Linked DNA regions of Homo sapiens: region 1 is linked to region 2. Evidence: fine-mapped expression QTL. Tissue or cell type: NK cells. Region 2 holds a variant in brackets; the other region holds the start of a gene. All regions are shown on one strand. Distances are between the middles of the regions.

Evidence for each region. PIP is the estimated chance that this variant, and not a neighbour inherited with it, causes the effect.
Region 1: TUT1 starts here. The variant in region 2 is fine-mapped to the expression of TUT1 in NK cells (Gilchrist 2021, PIP 0.95).

What each region holds. Positions count from the first base shown.
Region 1 is chr11:62,587,764-62,595,763 of GRCh38, reverse strand. It overlaps TUT1 (terminal uridylyl transferase 1, U6 snRNA-specific), which reads left to right and starts at 4,241. Exons shown (of 9, transcript NM_022830.3): 1 at 4,241-4,360; 2 at 6,543-6,733. The coding sequence starts at 4,279. MTA2 (metastasis associated 1 family member 2) reads left to right here. Exons shown (of 18, transcript NM_004739.4): 13 at 1-12; 14 at 272-500; 15 at 694-783; 16 at 1,130-1,248; 17 at 1,357-1,505; 18 at 1,724-2,550. The coding sequence ends at 1,889. RefSeq lists enhancers at 4,090-4,319, 3,736-4,431.
Region 2 is chr11:62,662,742-62,670,741 of GRCh38, reverse strand. It overlaps LBHD1 (LBH domain containing 1), which reads left to right. Exons shown (of 7, transcript NM_024099.5): 2 at 701-860; 3 at 939-1,101; 4 at 2,995-3,219; 5 at 5,769-5,893; 6 at 7,409-7,506; 7 at 7,583-7,925. The coding sequence starts at 711. The coding sequence ends at 7,613. C11orf98 (chromosome 11 open reading frame 98) reads left to right here and starts at 5,532. Exons shown (of 4, transcript NM_001286086.2): 1 at 5,532-5,611; 2 at 5,769-5,893; 3 at 7,409-7,506; 4 at 7,583-7,925. The coding sequence starts at 5,573. The coding sequence ends at 7,692. CSKMT (citrate synthase lysine methyltransferase) reads right to left here and starts at 5,430. Exons shown (of 3, transcript NM_001043229.2): 1 at 5,410-5,430; 2 at 4,796-5,095; 3 at 2,634-4,346. The coding sequence starts at 4,862. The coding sequence ends at 3,691. It overlaps SNORA57 (small nucleolar RNA, H/ACA box 57), which reads right to left and starts at 5,320; the gene lies at 5,172-5,320. RefSeq lists enhancers at 1-385, 4,083-4,182, 4,203-4,252, 4,303-4,412, 5,083-5,312. The variant C/G (reference allele first, on the strand shown) is at 3,689.

The DNA of each region.
Region 1 (8,000 bases), 75 kb after region 2:
CGGGGCACCACGGTAAGGATCAGTGGGAAGAAAAGCAGGGGAGAGCAGTAAGCATATTGATGGTGAGCTTAGGTGAAGGCCAGAATATTCAACTCTTTATATGGTGATGGTTTGATGGACGGGGTGCTTGATGCTGGTTGGGGAGACACATAGGCCAAGAGGTCAGTAAAGAGATTAGACAGGAATAAATTGTCCCCTGCAGGGAATGGAAGAAAGAAGGGAGCCTCAGTGCTGATTTCTGCTCTCTCTCTTTCCTATGCTCTTCTTCTAGGAGCCACACTCAAGGGGTCATTTATCCAGACCTGAAGCTCAAAGTCTCTCTCCTTACACAACCAGCGCCAACAGGGCCAAGCTACTGGCTAAGAACAGACAAACTTTCCTGCTTCAGACCACAAAGCTGACCCGTCTTGCCAGACGCATGTGCAGGGACCTATTACAGCCAAGGAGGGCCGCCCGACGGCCTTATGCTCCTATCAATGCCAATGCCATCAAAGCAGAGTGTAAGGGCAGGGAGTGGTGGGACTGGTGGTGGGTTTCGGATTGCTCTGCCCAGAGACCGTTGTTTCTCTGGATGTCTAATAACAGGAGGGATAGTAGGCCACAGATAATTTTTTTAAGATTAGAGTTGGCTTCTGGCCTTAGAGGAGACCTGAATGGTGAAGCCCTTCAGAAGCTTTCTTCTTTGTTCTCCAGGCTCCATTCGACTTCCTAAGGCCGCCAAGACTCCATTGAAGATTCACCCTCTGGTGCGGCTGCCCCTGGCAACTATCGTCAAAGATCTGGGTATGGGATGGGGACCAGTGAGGTTGGCATCAGGCTCCCAGTCCTTTCCCTGTCTGACATCTCTCCCCTTGCTTTTTTTCTTCCTCATAGTGTCCTCAGAGATTTAGTCTAACAAACTGTACTTTTGTTGTTTAATAATTTTTTTTGTAAACTATTCAGTATTACTGTACTGATTTGATAAGGTCATACTGATATTTGAAATACTAGTGATAGCTTGCCAGAACATTCCCCCATTGCTACTTTTGGGGATGCCCAGGTAAACTGCTGGTCCAGGGAAGAGAGATGGAAGTAACAAAGGGGAACTGCGTGGGAAGAAAAGGTGCGAAAGTTTTCTGTTTTTTTCCAGTGGCCCAGGCACCCCTGAAACCAAAAACACCTCGGGGTACCAAGACACCGATCAACAGAAACCAGCTGTCCCAGAACCGGGGACTGGGGGGCATTATGGTGAAACGGGCCTATGAGACTGTGAGTTGACAGAAAGGGGTGGGCCAGATTGAGTTGGGTGGGCTTTTGTCTCTCATAGGAGTCTGAGAGGGTCCCTTCCCTCATTGTGCCATCCTACCCCTTTTCCAGATGGCAGGGGCAGGGGTTCCTTTCTCTGCCAATGGAAGGCCTCTGGCTTCAGGGATTCGTTCAAGCTCACAGCCAGCAGCCAAGCGTCAGAAACTAAACCCAGCTGATGCCCCCAATCCTGTGGTGTTTGTGGCCACAAAGGATACCAGGTAAGGCGTCTACCATGGGAGGGGCTGAGAGGGACAGTCCAGGCTGGTGAGTGTGGGGAGTAGGAGTATCAGAGCAAGAGCTCCAGGAAAGTTGTGGATGCAGGGTGGGGATGCCAGAAAAGAATGGGCCAGAAGGCATAATTGCAGTGTGGGGCTTCACCTGGAGGTCTTAATGTTCTCTAAGCCTTTTCTGTTTCCCACTTGCTCTTTCTGGCCAGGGCCCTACGGAAGGCTCTGACCCATCTGGAAATGCGGCGAGCTGCTCGCCGACCCAACTTGCCCCTGAAGGTGAAGCCAACGCTGATTGCAGTGCGGCCCCCTGTCCCTCTACCTGCACCCTCACATCCTGCCAGCACCAATGAGCCTATTGTCCTGGAGGACTGAGCACCTGTGGGGAAGGGAGGTGGGCTGAGAGGTAGAGGGTGGATGCCCAGGGCACCCAAACCTCCCTTCCCTTTCGTGTCGAAGGGAGTGAGGAGTGAATTAAGGAAGAGAGCAAGTGAGTGTGTGTCCCTGGAGGGGTTGGGCGCCCTCTGGTGTTACCACCTCGAGACTTGTCTCATGCCTCCATGCTTGCCGATGGAGGACAGACTGCAGGAACTTGGCCCATGTGGGAACCTAGCCTGTTTTGGGGGGTAGGACCCACAGATGTCTTGGACAGTTTTGGGGGGAGGGTTTTTTAATTTTTTAAAAATTTTGCCTCCCTTTGTGAAAGGGGATGGGGAGGGGAAGAGTAAACAGATAACAGGTGGTGGTACCTGGTTGGGGGAGGGGGGCGTGCACTGCCATGTCTTTTTTTTTTTTTTTTTTTTTTTTTTTCCTAATTGGGGGTTTCTCTTTCTGTCCGGTGTCCGGACTTTCCTAATTGGAGTTTGAGGCCCCTAAGCTGGCATCAACCCCAGGCCACGCTCGCTCTTTCCTTCCCTCCCCTCCCCCTCTGCCTTTTGTACGCCAGTTCTCAGAAATAAAGATCTTTTGTCCGTTTTTTTAACCTCGGATTCTGTAATTGGTTCTTATAGTAACAAATAAAAAGCTGTTTTCTTCAGCTTCTCCTGGCTCAGCTGTTCTTTGCCATGGGTGTGTGTTGTGTGTGTGTTGGGGGTGTCTTTGAGAGGGAAAATAAAGGACAAAGGACAACAAAGGAGGTACAGATGGTTCTTGCCCTGGGAACAGCTTTATGAGATAGGCAGCCTGGACCCAGGCGGCTTGCTCCAGCTAGGCTTCTTGTGGGACCCAAACTGCTCCCCAGCTCCCAGTGGTGCTGGAGCTCAAGAACCATCTTGGCCCAGATTCATTCAAAGGAGTTGAGATGAGCTTTCTGGATGACTGGTGGCCTCCATAGGAAAGGGGAATGGGGGTGTTTCTTCCTCTGTTTCCCACCTCTTACTCCCCTCTCCCTTTTGTTTAAGGAATTCTGGAAGTTGCTAGCAGCCAGGGTAACATGTATACCCCCTTGGGGGTGGTGGTGGGGTTATAGGAGGATCCCCTCACCTAGCTGTGTGGTGTATTTGGCAGACGAGAATTCTACCACTGAACCACCCTAGCACCTCTGGGTGTATGTGTACAGCCTGCTGCTTCAGGATCCTCAAGGCCAGTCTCGATGATATCCCGATCCACTGTAGCACTGTTTCCTGCCTTAAAGGTTTGGGACACTGAGATTAGATGCCTGAGCTGGGCCCATTAGAAGGAACACCTTAGGATAGAGAACAAGAAGTTCAGCCTGCTGTGTGCTCCTTGGGCACTTCCTTTAGAGATGGGAAACGGCCTCAACAGTTGTGACTTGTTCAAGGTCAAAGACCTTGGTGTCTGCCTTAGGTCCACTGCTCTTTGCGCCATTCAAAGCTGTGGGCTGATAACCACAGCACAAGCTGCTGAGCCCATCTGATAGTTCTCTCCACCTCGTTATGGTCCCTGTCCCTAGGGCATCCCCAGCTCCCCGTAGTCCCTCCCTGTCCTGAGCCTACACCTCGGCGGCGTTGGGATGAACTGACAATTATACCAGGAGGGGGTTGACAGCATTCGCCCCCTCCAGTGTCTAAACTCAGTTACTGGCACTCGGTTTTGTCTTGTCGCACTGCTCTGAGGTGCGCCAGTAGCTCTGGCGCCTCCGGCGTACACCACGCAGCCCACTACTGCGGAAGGAATGGGCCTGGCTCCAGGACCTCGTGGAGTCCGGAAGGTGCCCGGTGGTGGCAGAGCTCCCCAACCAGGGCTAGAAGCCGTCGCAGAACACCCGTTTTGCGGGAGGACAGGGGGCGGAGGGAGGGAGTAACAGCCCTGAAAAGGTTGGAAGTCCAGGGACAGCCCTGGGCTCCGTGGGGCAAAGAATTGGAAGCCGCCGATCCTCCGCCTTTATTCGTCGGGTAAATAAGGGTCGAGGGTACAGACGCACGGGTGTCTACTGCGGGGTGAAGGAGCTGCCGCAAGATGCCACCCGGCGCCGGCCTTTGTGGCTGCTGTCATGAATATTCACGATGCTTTGGGCCAATCAACGTCTGAACAGCTTAAAGCACACCAATCGGCTTACCGCATGCAGATAAGCATCGTAACGCGCCGCTTTTCCTGAAACGGGCGGGGACTGGACAGCGGCTAGAAACGGAACCCAGAGTCGAAGGAGCTTGGTTTCCGGAGGAGTGTGTCCGCGCAATTGAACGACTTTATGTCACTTCCTATCGGATCGGCGGAAGTTGCTTCCGAGCGCGTTGAGCTTTGGCGAAGTGGGTTCCGGTGGTGGCAGAGGTGCTTGTGTTTTTGTCGGTACAGGAGAGTCGCTATGGCGGCGGTGGATTCGGATGTCGAATCGCTGCCGCGTGGGGGGTTCCGCTGCTGCCTCTGCCACGTTACTACAGCCAACCGTAAGCGGTGGCTAGTGAGGGACCCGGGGGTGGTTGCGGGCTTTCGTCTTTTGATCCTGGCGAAAGTTAGGGTTATAGGTAGTCAGTCGTTCTTGTCAAGTTGATTGGTAGGGTCTCTCACCTCCGTTTTTCTCTGCAAGTCCGAGGGGATTTGGAGAGTCGGGAAAGTTCCACCACATTACACTCCTCAGTATATGAAATCTCCACAACGCAAGTTTAATTGTTTTATTACTTCTTTAACCATCATCTATTGGACATATGCTCTGTGCCTGGTATTCTGCTGATCTTTAGGGTGGGGGAGGGGGGTTCAGAGATGAAGGAGCTCACCGTCTAGAGAATGAGAAAGTTTCAATGCTTTATAGATATGTTCGGAGAACTGTGGGACCACAGAGAATTAGTAACTAAATCAGAGAAGCCCTACAGAGGACCTACTCAAAGGAGGGGATGGATGAAATAGGTGTGGCATGAATGACTAGACCATAAGGTACCAGTGAGGAAGAGACAGAAGATGGGTTTGGAAAAATAGACAAGGTTCTTGTATGACACACAAGGGGTTCACTGTAACTTCAAATTCCACTTTTTTTTTTTTTTTGAGACAAGGTCTTGCTCTGTCACCCAGGCTGCAGTGCGGTGGTGTGATCTTGGCTCACTGCAGCCTCAACCTCCCGGGCTCAAACCATACCCCTGGCTAGCCTCCCAAGTAGTTGAGTCTACAGGTGTGCACCACCATACTTGGCTAATTTCTTTTTTCTTTTTTTTTTTTTTTTGAGACAGAGTCTCACTCTGTCACCCAGGCTGGAGTGCAGTGGCACGATCTTGGCTCACTGCAAGCTCCACCTCCTGGGTTCACCCCATTCTCCTGCCTCAGCCTCCCGTGTAGCCGGGACTACAGGCACCCGCCACCACGCCCGGCTAATTTTTTGTATTTTTTAGTAGAGACGAGGTTTCACCATGTTAGTCAGGATGGTCTCGATCTCCTGACCTCGTGACCCGCCCGCCTCGGCCTCCCAAAGTGCCGGGATTACAGGCCTGAGCCACCGCGCCCGGCCTACTTGGCAAATTTTTTAGTTTTTTGTAGAGATGGGTTTTCACCATGTTGCCTAGGCTGGTCTCCAATTCCTGGCCTCAAGCGATCTTCCCATCTTGGCCTCCCAAAGTGCTGGGATTACAGGCGTGAGCCAATGTGCCCAGCCCTACTTTTGAAGTCTGGAATCACAGTGTTCCCTAAACAGGGTTTACTTCCATTCTTCCTTTTCACTGTGAATGGCACTATCACTGTTCATCCAGTAAGCCAAGCCAGAAACCTAGGAGTCTTCTTTGGCCCCACATTTACTTTGGTGACATCAAGCAGCTAACTCAATAAAATAATAGCAACGGTTAGTTTTTCAACATTTACCGTGTACCAGACTCTCTCTGCCAAGTGATATATCTGAATAATACCTGTGTGTGAGGTGCTAGATACTGATATTTCCATTTTATATCTGAGGAAGTTGATGCACAGTGAGGCTTCATAACTTGACCAAGGTCTCACACAGGTTGACAGAGCTGGGATTTGAACTTGGGCAATGTAATTTCAGATCCTGCCTTTGACATCACTATATTATACCATGTCCAAAGATGATCCACAAAGTATTCCATGATCCAAATTTTTTTAGTTCTTGTGTAGATGACCTGGATAAGTTACCTGTTAATTTGTTTCCAACTCTACCTAGCACAAATAGGTGGTTTAAGAAATACTTTACTATCACACTGTTCTTTAAGTAAAAATAAACAAAATACTTGTAGTGTAGCCAGTTCTCCTGGGAACCCTCGTCTCTACTAAAAATACAAAAATTAGCCGGGTGTGGTGACACACGCCTGTAGTCCCACCTACTCACGAGGCTGAGGCAGGAGAATTTCTTGAACCTGGGAGGCAGACGTTGCAGTGAGTGGAGACTGCGCCACTGAACTCCAGCGGGGGCGACAGTGAGACTCTGTTTAAAAAAAATAAATTAAAAAAAAAAGAATGTACTATTTAGACAAATGTATAAGAGAGGAAGGTGAAAGGAGCCAGGACTTTGTTTATTCAAAGGTCACAGTTTCTGTGGCTTGGAAGGATCAGTAAGATTTAGGTATGCAGAGAGCAAAGGCAGACACGTCGAAGAGTGCTTTGCATGTTTTTGTCTCACACTTGTCTTTGCAGGACCCAGCCTTGATGCCCACTTGGGAGGCAGAAAGCACCGGCACCTGGTAGAACTACGAGCTGCGAGAAAGGCCCAGGGACTTCGAAGTGTGTTTGTCAGTGGCTTTCCCAGGGATGTGGATTCTGCTCAGCTCTCTGAGTACTTCCTAGCATTTGGACCTGTGGCCAGTGTTGTCATGGACAAGGACAAGGTAAAGTGAATGGCTCTCGGGTTAAAGAATGAATCAGTGCTGGGCGCGATGGCTCACGCCTGTAATCCCATCACTTTGGGAGGCTGAGGCAGGCGGATTACCTGAGGTTAGGAGTTTGAGACCAGCCTGGCCAACATGGTGAAACCCCATCTCTACTAAAAATAAAAAATTAGCTGGGTGTGATGGCGCATGCCTGTAGTCCCAGCTACTTGGGATGCTGAGGCAGGAGAATCGCTTGAACCCGGGAGGTGGAGGTTGCAGCAAGCTGAGATCGTGCCACTGTGCTCCAGCCTGGATTACAGAGCAAGACTCCGTCTTAAGAAAAAAAAGAATGAATCAGATGTGCTGTGTACCAAAGAGACAAGAGAGAGAAACCAACAGCCTCTTTGAGCTGGTTCCTAATGTGGCTTATTCTTGATGGACATCACAGTACTTGGGCTAGACCAGCTTTGGGAGCTTCTCACACCTCCCCCACCCCTTGAATTTTTATTTTTATTATTATATTTTTGAGTGCAGTGGCACAATCTCAGCTCACTGTGACGTCTACCTCCTGGGTTCCAGCAATTCTCACACCTTAGCCACCCAAGCAACTGAGATTACAGGCGCGTGCCCCCATGCCCAGCTAATTTTTGTATTTTTAGTAGAGACAGGGTTTCACCATGTTGGCCAGGCTGGTCTCGAACTCCTGACCTCAGGTGATCCGTGCACCTCAACCTCCCCAAATGCTGGGATTACGGGCGTGAGCCACTGCTCCCAGTCCCACCCTTTGGATTTTATCACTTCACCAGAGTTAGTCACTGGGGGATTTTTTTGTGTGTGTCATCTATTGATTCAGTGAATTCTTTGCCAAATATTTATTCACAGCTAACTTTGTACTAGGCACTATGCTTAGGGCTGCATTCTGAGTAGTGAATGGGGTAGATATGGTCCCTGCTCTCACAGAGCCTATAGTCTAGAGGAGAAAGTAAACAATTAAGTAATTATAGTGAAAGTTGGTGCTTAAAGAACAACATACCATTGGATCAACTCCACAAGAACCTGGTTGATAAACCAGTTAGCAGTTTATTAACTTACACTGAGGGTACTAAGGTTGTTTGGTTAGAACACCCTGTCCTTTGGAGAGTGTTAGATAAACAAGCTTGTGCTTTTTGTGTTGCTTCCCTGTAGGTTTTGGTCCCTTGAAAAAAGTTCACTGTTGAGGTGCTGTGTTCCTTGGTCATACTGTGGTTCTGAGGCTGTACTCTTGTTATGTAGGCATGGCTTAGGT
Region 2 (8,000 bases):
GAAAGAGTTTCACTATGTAGGTCAGGCTGGTCTCGAACTCCTGACCTCGTGATCCGCCCAATCCGCCCACCTCGGCCTCCCAAAGTGCTGGGATTACAGGTGTGAGCCACCGCGCCCGGCTGTTTTGCTTTGTTTTCAACCACTAAAAGGCTGGATTCGTGTAACATACTGAATTCTGCTTTACAGAAGAAAACACCTCTTAGCTGTGTGACTGATTATAGGCAAGTTCTTGTGCCCCGGTTTCTGCATCAGAAAATGAAGCTTATAACAACAGTACTTGTCTCACAGTTTTAGGATAATTAAATTAGTTATATGTAAAGCAATTAAAACAGCTCCTGCCAAAGAGTAAACACCATATAAATATTCATTAAATAACATACAAACATACCAGGTTGGGAAAAATCAGTAAGCATAGGAGTCAGGAAATTCCAAGTTGGTTATCACAACTCTTGGCCCACAGGGCTTTAATCCAGGTGCCCTTGTCTCCTACCCTTGTTGCCATCCCAGTGTCTCCAGGGAGTAAGTAGAAATAAAGATCCTATCTCACCTCTTGGGCATTTTCCCCTCCCCTGAAAGCGTATAATCGCTTAGCACAGTCGGTGCTTAAGGGGCCAGGCTCCAAAGAAGATTAAAGGAACAGTTTGTGGGGTGCACTGGGCAGCAGTACTCTCCTCTGAGTTCAATCATCTTGCACTCTAAGAATCACCACCATGGCCCTTGTGCCAGGGAGAAGCAAGGAGGATGGGCTTTGGACTAGAAATAGCCCAGGCTCCTCCCAGCATCCAGAAAGTCCCAGGCTGCCCAACCCTCTCTGGGACAGAGGAAAAATTGGCAAGGTTGAAGGTCACCAGCACATTCAGGTTAGTACTTCCTCAGCCTGTGTCTGGCAGCTGGCTTACCCTCCAGTTTGGCCCAACCTCCCTGCTGTCCCTATTCAGGATTTCTCTCAAAAGTCCCATCTGCCGTCTATTGTGGTGGAATCCAGTGAGGTGAATGAAGAGAGTGGGGATCTCCATTTGCCCCATGAGGAGCTGCTGCTGCTCACTGATGGTGAGGAAGAGGATGCTGAGGCCTTCTTCCAAGACCAAAGTGAAGAGCCAGGTGAGGGAGGTGGCTCATTCAGGGGGCCACTGTGAGCTGAATGTTCTGGGCAGAGCCAAGATGGAAGTCAGTTACGGCCCCTGCATTCAGCAGTGCCAGGCACACAGCAGGTGCTCAATAAATGTGAAGATGTGGGAGAGAAAAGGCAGCTGGCAAAGTTGATGAATTGTAGAGAGCAGTTTTGGTATCAGAATGGGTGCCATCCTTTAATCTGTACTTTCTTTTTCTTCTTTTTTTTTTTTTTGAGACTGAGTCTCGCTCTGTCACCCAGACTGGAGTGCAGTGGCGCGATCTCAGCTCACTGCAAGCTCCGCCTCCTGGGTTCACGCCATTCTCCTGCCTCAGCCTCCCAAGCCGGCCAGTCTTGGGGTAATTTTATCTTTTCCTGCAGCAATGTAAACATTTTGAAAGTACAGATTAAGGCTGGCCGCGGTGGCTCACGCCTGTAATCCCAGCACTTTGGGAGGCTGAGGCGGGCAGATCACAAGGTCAGGAGATCGAGACCATCCTGGCTAACATGGTGAAACCCCGTCTCTACTAAAAATACAAAAAATTAGCCGGGCGTGGTGGCGGGCGCCTGTAGTCCCAGCTACTCGGGAGGCAGGAGAATGGCGTGAACCCGGGATGTGGAGTTTGCAGTAAGCTGAGATCCCACCACTGCACTCCAGCCTGGGCAAGAGCCAGATTCTGCCTCAAAAAAAACAAAAAACAAAAAAAATTACCCCAAGACCAACTACCTAAAAATAGTTTACATATTCGATACCTTCTCTTCTAGACTTTTTTCATCTCTGTGTACTGTTTTTTTGTTTGTTTGTTTTGGTTTTGGTTTTTTTTTTTGAGACAGAGTCTTGCTCTGTCCCCCAGGCTGGAGTGCAGTGGCAATGACCTCTGCTCACTGCAAGCCCTGCCTCCTGGGTTCGTGCCATTCTCCTGCCTCAGCCTCCCGAGTAGCTGGGACTACAGGCACCCGCCACCACGCCCAGCTAATTTTTTTGTATTTTTAGTAGAGACAGGGTTTCACTTTGTTCGCCAGGATCTCCTTACCTTGTGATCCGCCTGCCTGGGCCTCTCAAAGTGCTGGGATTACAGGCGTGAGCCACCGCGCCCGGCCCCGTCTGTGTACTGTTACAGAAGCTACTTTTTTTTTTTTTTTTTTTTTTGAGACAGAGTCACCCTCTGTTGCCCAGGCGGAGTGCAGTGGCAGGATCTCGGCTTACTGCAACCTCTGCCTCCCAGGTCCAAGCAAGTCTCCTGCCTCAGCCTCCTGAGTAGCTGGGGCTACAGGTTCAGGCCACCACGCCCGACTAATTTTTTTTGTATTTTAGTAGAGATGGGGTTTCACCATATTGCCCAGGCTGGTCTCAAACTCCTGAGCTCAGGCAATCTGCCCGCCTCAGCCTCCCAAGAAGCTACATTCTTTTGAGCATTTACTATGTACCAGGTACTATGCTAAACACTTTTACTTCATGATTTTCAGAACAACCCAATGAAGGTACTTCCCCTTTATAAATGAGAAAATTGAGGCTGCGAGGTTAGGCTCTTAGTGATATAATTGCTCTATTTTTTTATAAGCAAAAAATACCACAGAAATTAATTTTTAGCTCAAGTGCAGCAGCTTATCATGGCCCATTGCAGCTTTGACCTCCCAGGGTTCAAGCAGTCCTCCCAGCTCAGCCTCCTGAGTAGTTGGAACTACATGCCTGTGCCACTATCCCGGGCTCATTTGTTTTTGTAGAGTTAGGGGTGTCACTTTATTGCCAGGGCTCAAGCAATCTGCCCACCTTGGCCTCCCAAAGTGCTGTGATTATAGGTATGAGCCAGCATGCCTGGCCTAGTTTTGTAATTTGATAATATATCAGTAATATTTTTGTCCCCTCTCTTCCTCCATCCCAGGCTGGGCTTGGAGCCCACAGGACCCTAGAAGTCCTTTAAGAACATTTAACGCTGGACTCAGCTGGGGGCAGGACCAGGATGAAGAAGATGCTTGTTGGATTCTTGAGGACACAGCATGTCTGGAAGCCACCAACCACTGTCCCTTCTGGGACTCAACAGGCTCCCGTGTTTGTAGAAGTGGCTTTGTGGAATATTCCCATCTCCTGCCTCCTAATAGCTTTGAGGGTAAGTATTGTTCCCTCCCCCTCAAATATCTCATCCAGGTTTATGAAGCTCCTTATACCCATCCTCTTACAATCTCCTTTTACAGGTGACAAAAATGAGGCTTACAGGTTAGGCCACTAGATTATACAAGTCAGTCAGCGCAGGGGTTTTGATTCAGTTCCTGTCTGCTGCTTTTAGGAGCTCCAGTTAGTTGAAACTGGGGAATGACCCAATTGTACCTTCTCTTTTCAGCATTCATTTTGTGCTAAATATTGCGCACATCATTGTATGTAATCTCCGTAACTCCAAGTTATTCTCACTCTGCAGATGAGTAAACTGGGGAACAGAAACATTCAGCAATATGGCACCCAGCTAGTAAATGTGGAAGCCAGGACTCAAATTCTCACTTTGCAGCCAGATAGCTTGCAAAGACAGTTCTTCAGCCCTCTCCTTGCCCACAGAAATACTAGGGTCAGGACTACTAAAATGT[C/G]TTTAATGAGAGCCTTGAATCAAGTAAGCAAAGTAGGTGATGCCCCTGAACGGGCCTAGCTCCTGCACAGTCACAGTCCAGCCATAGGACCCTTGTTCCAGGCAGGGCAGTCGCACATCAGGGTCCTCATCTGAGAACTGAATCAGGGTCCCCTGAGGGTTTAGAACCCTCAAGCATTCTGATAGAAGCTGGTAAGCCCTAGGCAGACCTCCCCGGGCAACAGCATCCCATGTGCCTTTGTCCAGCAGTAGTTGGAAAGAGCCTGAAGAAGCCACAGCCCCCAGGTTCTGAGCATCGGCGTGCATGAAGTGGAGGCTTGAGGCAGGGTGTCCAGGGCATAGAGGTGTTTGGCCTGGGCCACCCTCCAGGAGGCTATTCATGTGGGCCACAGCCACAGGAGAAAAGTCCACCCCCAGCACATCCACTGGGTGTGGAGATTTGGTGTAGAGGCCTGTACATAGGCTGGAAGTCCCACAGCCCACATCCAGCACTCGCAGAGGACTGGCAGCCTGTGCCTCCTGCAGCAATGGCAGTAGGAGCCCCTGGACTTCGTCGTATCCAAAGAACCAGTCGAAGGTGGGGACAGTGCCCAAACGAGGCTGGGCATGCAGCCGATCCCAGAGACAGCGGTCCGCCAGGCAACTATCAGCCAGTGAGCCTGTGGGCACGGTTGGAGGGTGTCACTTGGTCTATGTCGCCACTGCAAAAACGTCGTATATACACACTGGCGTCTTTTTTTTTTTTGAGACAGGGTCTCACTCTGTGACCCAGGGTTGAGTACAGTAGCACAATGATGGCTCACTGAAGCCTCCACCTCAGCCTCCTGAGTAGCTAGGACTATAGGCGCCATCGTGCCCGGTTAATTTTTTTTGTAGACAGGGTCTCGCTATGTTGCCCTAGGTTGGTCTCGAACTCCTGGGCCAAGCGATCTGCCCGCCTCGGCCTGGCAAAGTGTTAGCATTACAGCCGTGAGCCACCACGCACGGCCCACCGTAGGGTTTGAGAATCACAATTTCAGGGACTACACTCCTGACTCACGAGGAACCCACCTTACCCTCCCCACTCTGCCCCCACCTTGCCCTCTCCACTCTGCCCCCACCTCCCTACCCGCAAAGGGGCGGCACGTCCCCATCATCAGGCTCGGCAAGTGGAGCATTCGACGCAGCGCGGCCATCTGGAGATTCGGGTAAGTTCGACCAGAGAAGCTTATGTGAAGCGTCCACCCTACTCCAGCCGGAGAGGCCTGAGGTCCAGGGGAAGATCTGCAAATTCCGCGTAGCGAAAGGCGGCGTACAGCTTCCCCGAACTCTGCAGTCCCGGAAAAAAGAACGCGGACACAGACTATGGTAGGAACGGCCTTTATTGGCTGCAGCGGGAAGTGGAGGAGGGTATACAGCGTCCGCAGACCTGAAATCAAATGAGAAAGTGTGAGCACCCCGATGGAGGAGCCAGCTGGATCTCGGTTGTCCTTCTCCGAGATTCCCGGTGTCCCGGCGTTTGAGGATAGAACCAGCGGATGGGAAGCCGCCAGCACCGAAGACATGACGCCGAGGGGGCCAGAGCCCTTTCCCTCTTCCTCCGTACATTACGGGGAGCGGCACCACAAGCCCGATCCCCGCCAAGAAAAGGAGGGTCCTGAGACCCCGCCCAGAGCCTTCCACCCGGCACCCCCACCACTCCCGGCCGCCCAATCTGGCTACTACAGCTAAAACCACACTTACTAGCTCACCACCCTCCGAAAGGCCTCCCGCACCGCGGAGCTCCTTTATATAGCCCGAGGACCCGCCCCCGAGTTGCGATTGGCCCGCGGAAGGCCGGGGCGGAGCCCCGCGGATCCGGCGCTGAGCGGAAGTACGGACCGTGAACTGGAGTGGAATCGCGACTATGGGAGCTCCGGGGGGAAAGATCAACCGGCCCCGAACGGTGACTGTGTGGGGGCCGCGACTTTGTTTCCTCAAGCGTTCCTGAGCCCTTTTATCTCGCACGAGATGGGATCAGTGAGGGGCCGGGGCTGCCTGGTGGAGGGGCCCCGGGTCGCGGCGAGCCCACTCCATCTGATTCGCATCTTTCTCCCCGGCAGGAGCTGAAGAAGAAGCTGTTCAAACGCCGGCGGGTGTTGAATCGGGAGCGGCGTCTGAGGCACCGGGTGGTCGGGGCTGTGATAGACCAAGGGCTGATCACGCGGCACCACCTCAAGAAGCGGGCGTAAGTACTAGACCCTCTTCCTGTTGGTCGTCCCCACCGAGTCTTCCTTCCTCCCTGCAGAGCTCCGGAGCAGCTTCACCTCTCAGCTCACCTTGTGCACTGACGCTTATGCGGGGAATGTCTGTCGGCTGTTAGTTCCTAAGCTCTGATAGCCTCTCACAATACCTGTAGCAGACAACCTTTCTTTGGGTTTTGGATTCTGTTAAGAATCTCAGGAAAGCCGGGGATGGTGGCTCATACCTGTAATCCCAGCACTTTGGGGGGCTGAGGTGGGCGGATCACCTGAGGTCGGGAGTTCGAGACCAGCCTGACCAACATGGTGAAACCCCGTTTTTGCTAAAAATACAAAAATTAGCCAGGCGTTGTGGCCGGCACCTGTAGTCCCAGCTACACGGGAGGCTGAGGCAGGAGAATTGCTTGAACCTGGGAGGCGGAGGTTGCAGTGAGCCGAGATCACGCCACTGCACTCCAGCCTGGGCCACAGAGTGAGACTCCGTCTCAAAAAAAAAAAAAAAAAAAAAAGAATATCAGGAAATCTGTTGGCTCTCCATTCTCCAAGTAATGTTATACATTCACACAGATTTTTATAAGTAAACTTATTTTTACATACAGAAAAGTGCACACATAGGCGCATAAAACTCGAAGAATTTTCCCAAAGGCACTCATAGGATTTCACTTGTAAGTTTCAAGGCCTCCTGTGTCTTGAGGAAGAGTTCCCATCCCATTAATTACTTTCTGTGTCCTTTTTTTTTTTTTTTTTTTTTTTCCTCTTTTTTGAGACAGAGTCTCCCTCTGTTGCCCAGGCTGGAGTGAAGTGGCATGATCTCGGCTCACTGCAACCCCTGCCTCCTGGGTTTAAGCTATTCTCTTGCCTCAGCCTCCCGAGTAGCTGGGATTACAGGTGCTCCCCACTGCACCCGGCTAATTTTTGTATTTTTAGTAGAGACGGGGTTTCACCATGTTGGCCAGGCTGGTCTTGAACTCCTGACCTCAGGTGATCCGCCCACCTCAGCCTCCCAAAGTGTTGGGATTACAGGCATAAGCCACCGCCCCCGATCTATGTCCTTTCATTAGCTTCTTCAATGTAAATATTTAGGGTTTCTATTACTATTTATATTATATTTATTTAATACTTTTCCTTTTTTTTTTTTTTTTGAGACGGAGTCTCGCTTTGTCGCCCAGGCTGGAGTGCAGTGGCGCGATCTCGGCTCACTGCAAGCTCCGCCTTCTGGGTTCACGCCATTCTCCTGCCGCAGCCTCCCGAGTAGCTGGGACTACAGGCGCCCGCCACTGCGCCCAGCTAATGTTTTGTATTTTTAGTAGAGACAGGGTTTCACCGTGGTCTCGATCTCCTGACCTCGTGATCCAGCCGCCTCGGCCTCCCAAAGTGCTGGGATTACAGGCGTGAGCCACTGCGCCCAGCCTATTTAATACTTTTTCTATAGCCAGAACTATTTGTGTGACCTCAGTTGGTTCAGGTTAACCTAGCTCTCTTTATTTCCACTTACCCATCAGGTCCAGTGCACGTGCCAACATTACACTGTCAGGGAAGAAGCGCAGAAAACTCCTCCAGCAGATCCGGCTTGCCCAGAAAGAGAAGACAGCCATGGAAGGTGAGGCTGGGACAGAGGTGGGTGAGGGGAATCCTGGATTTATTTGGGATAATACTTCCTTCTTCCCTTTACTCAGTGGAAGCCCCTTCAAAGCCAGCCAGGACTAGTGAACCACAGCTCAAAAGGCAAAAGAAGACAAAAGCCCCCCAGGATGTAGAAATGAAGGACCTTGAAGATGAGAGCTAAACCTCTTCCACTAGAAGATTCTCAACTGGAGCCAGCCTTCAGACTCAGTGGTTGTTTCAGAGGACTTTGACAAAAGCAAGGCCCCTTTTCACTCTCCAGATTTCCTCCTACCTAATGGCCTACTGACCTCCCCTAGAGGGATGTCTTTGGGAGGGAAGAAGGTACAGAAGAAAGATTGGAGAAGGGCCTCTCTAGCAGTCAACTCCATTTGTAATAAAGCCCTAGCACTCTGAGATGTGTGTGATTAAATGTAGGAATGGGGATGGGTCATGAAAAGATTGGGGAGTATGGAAACAAGACAGTGAGGA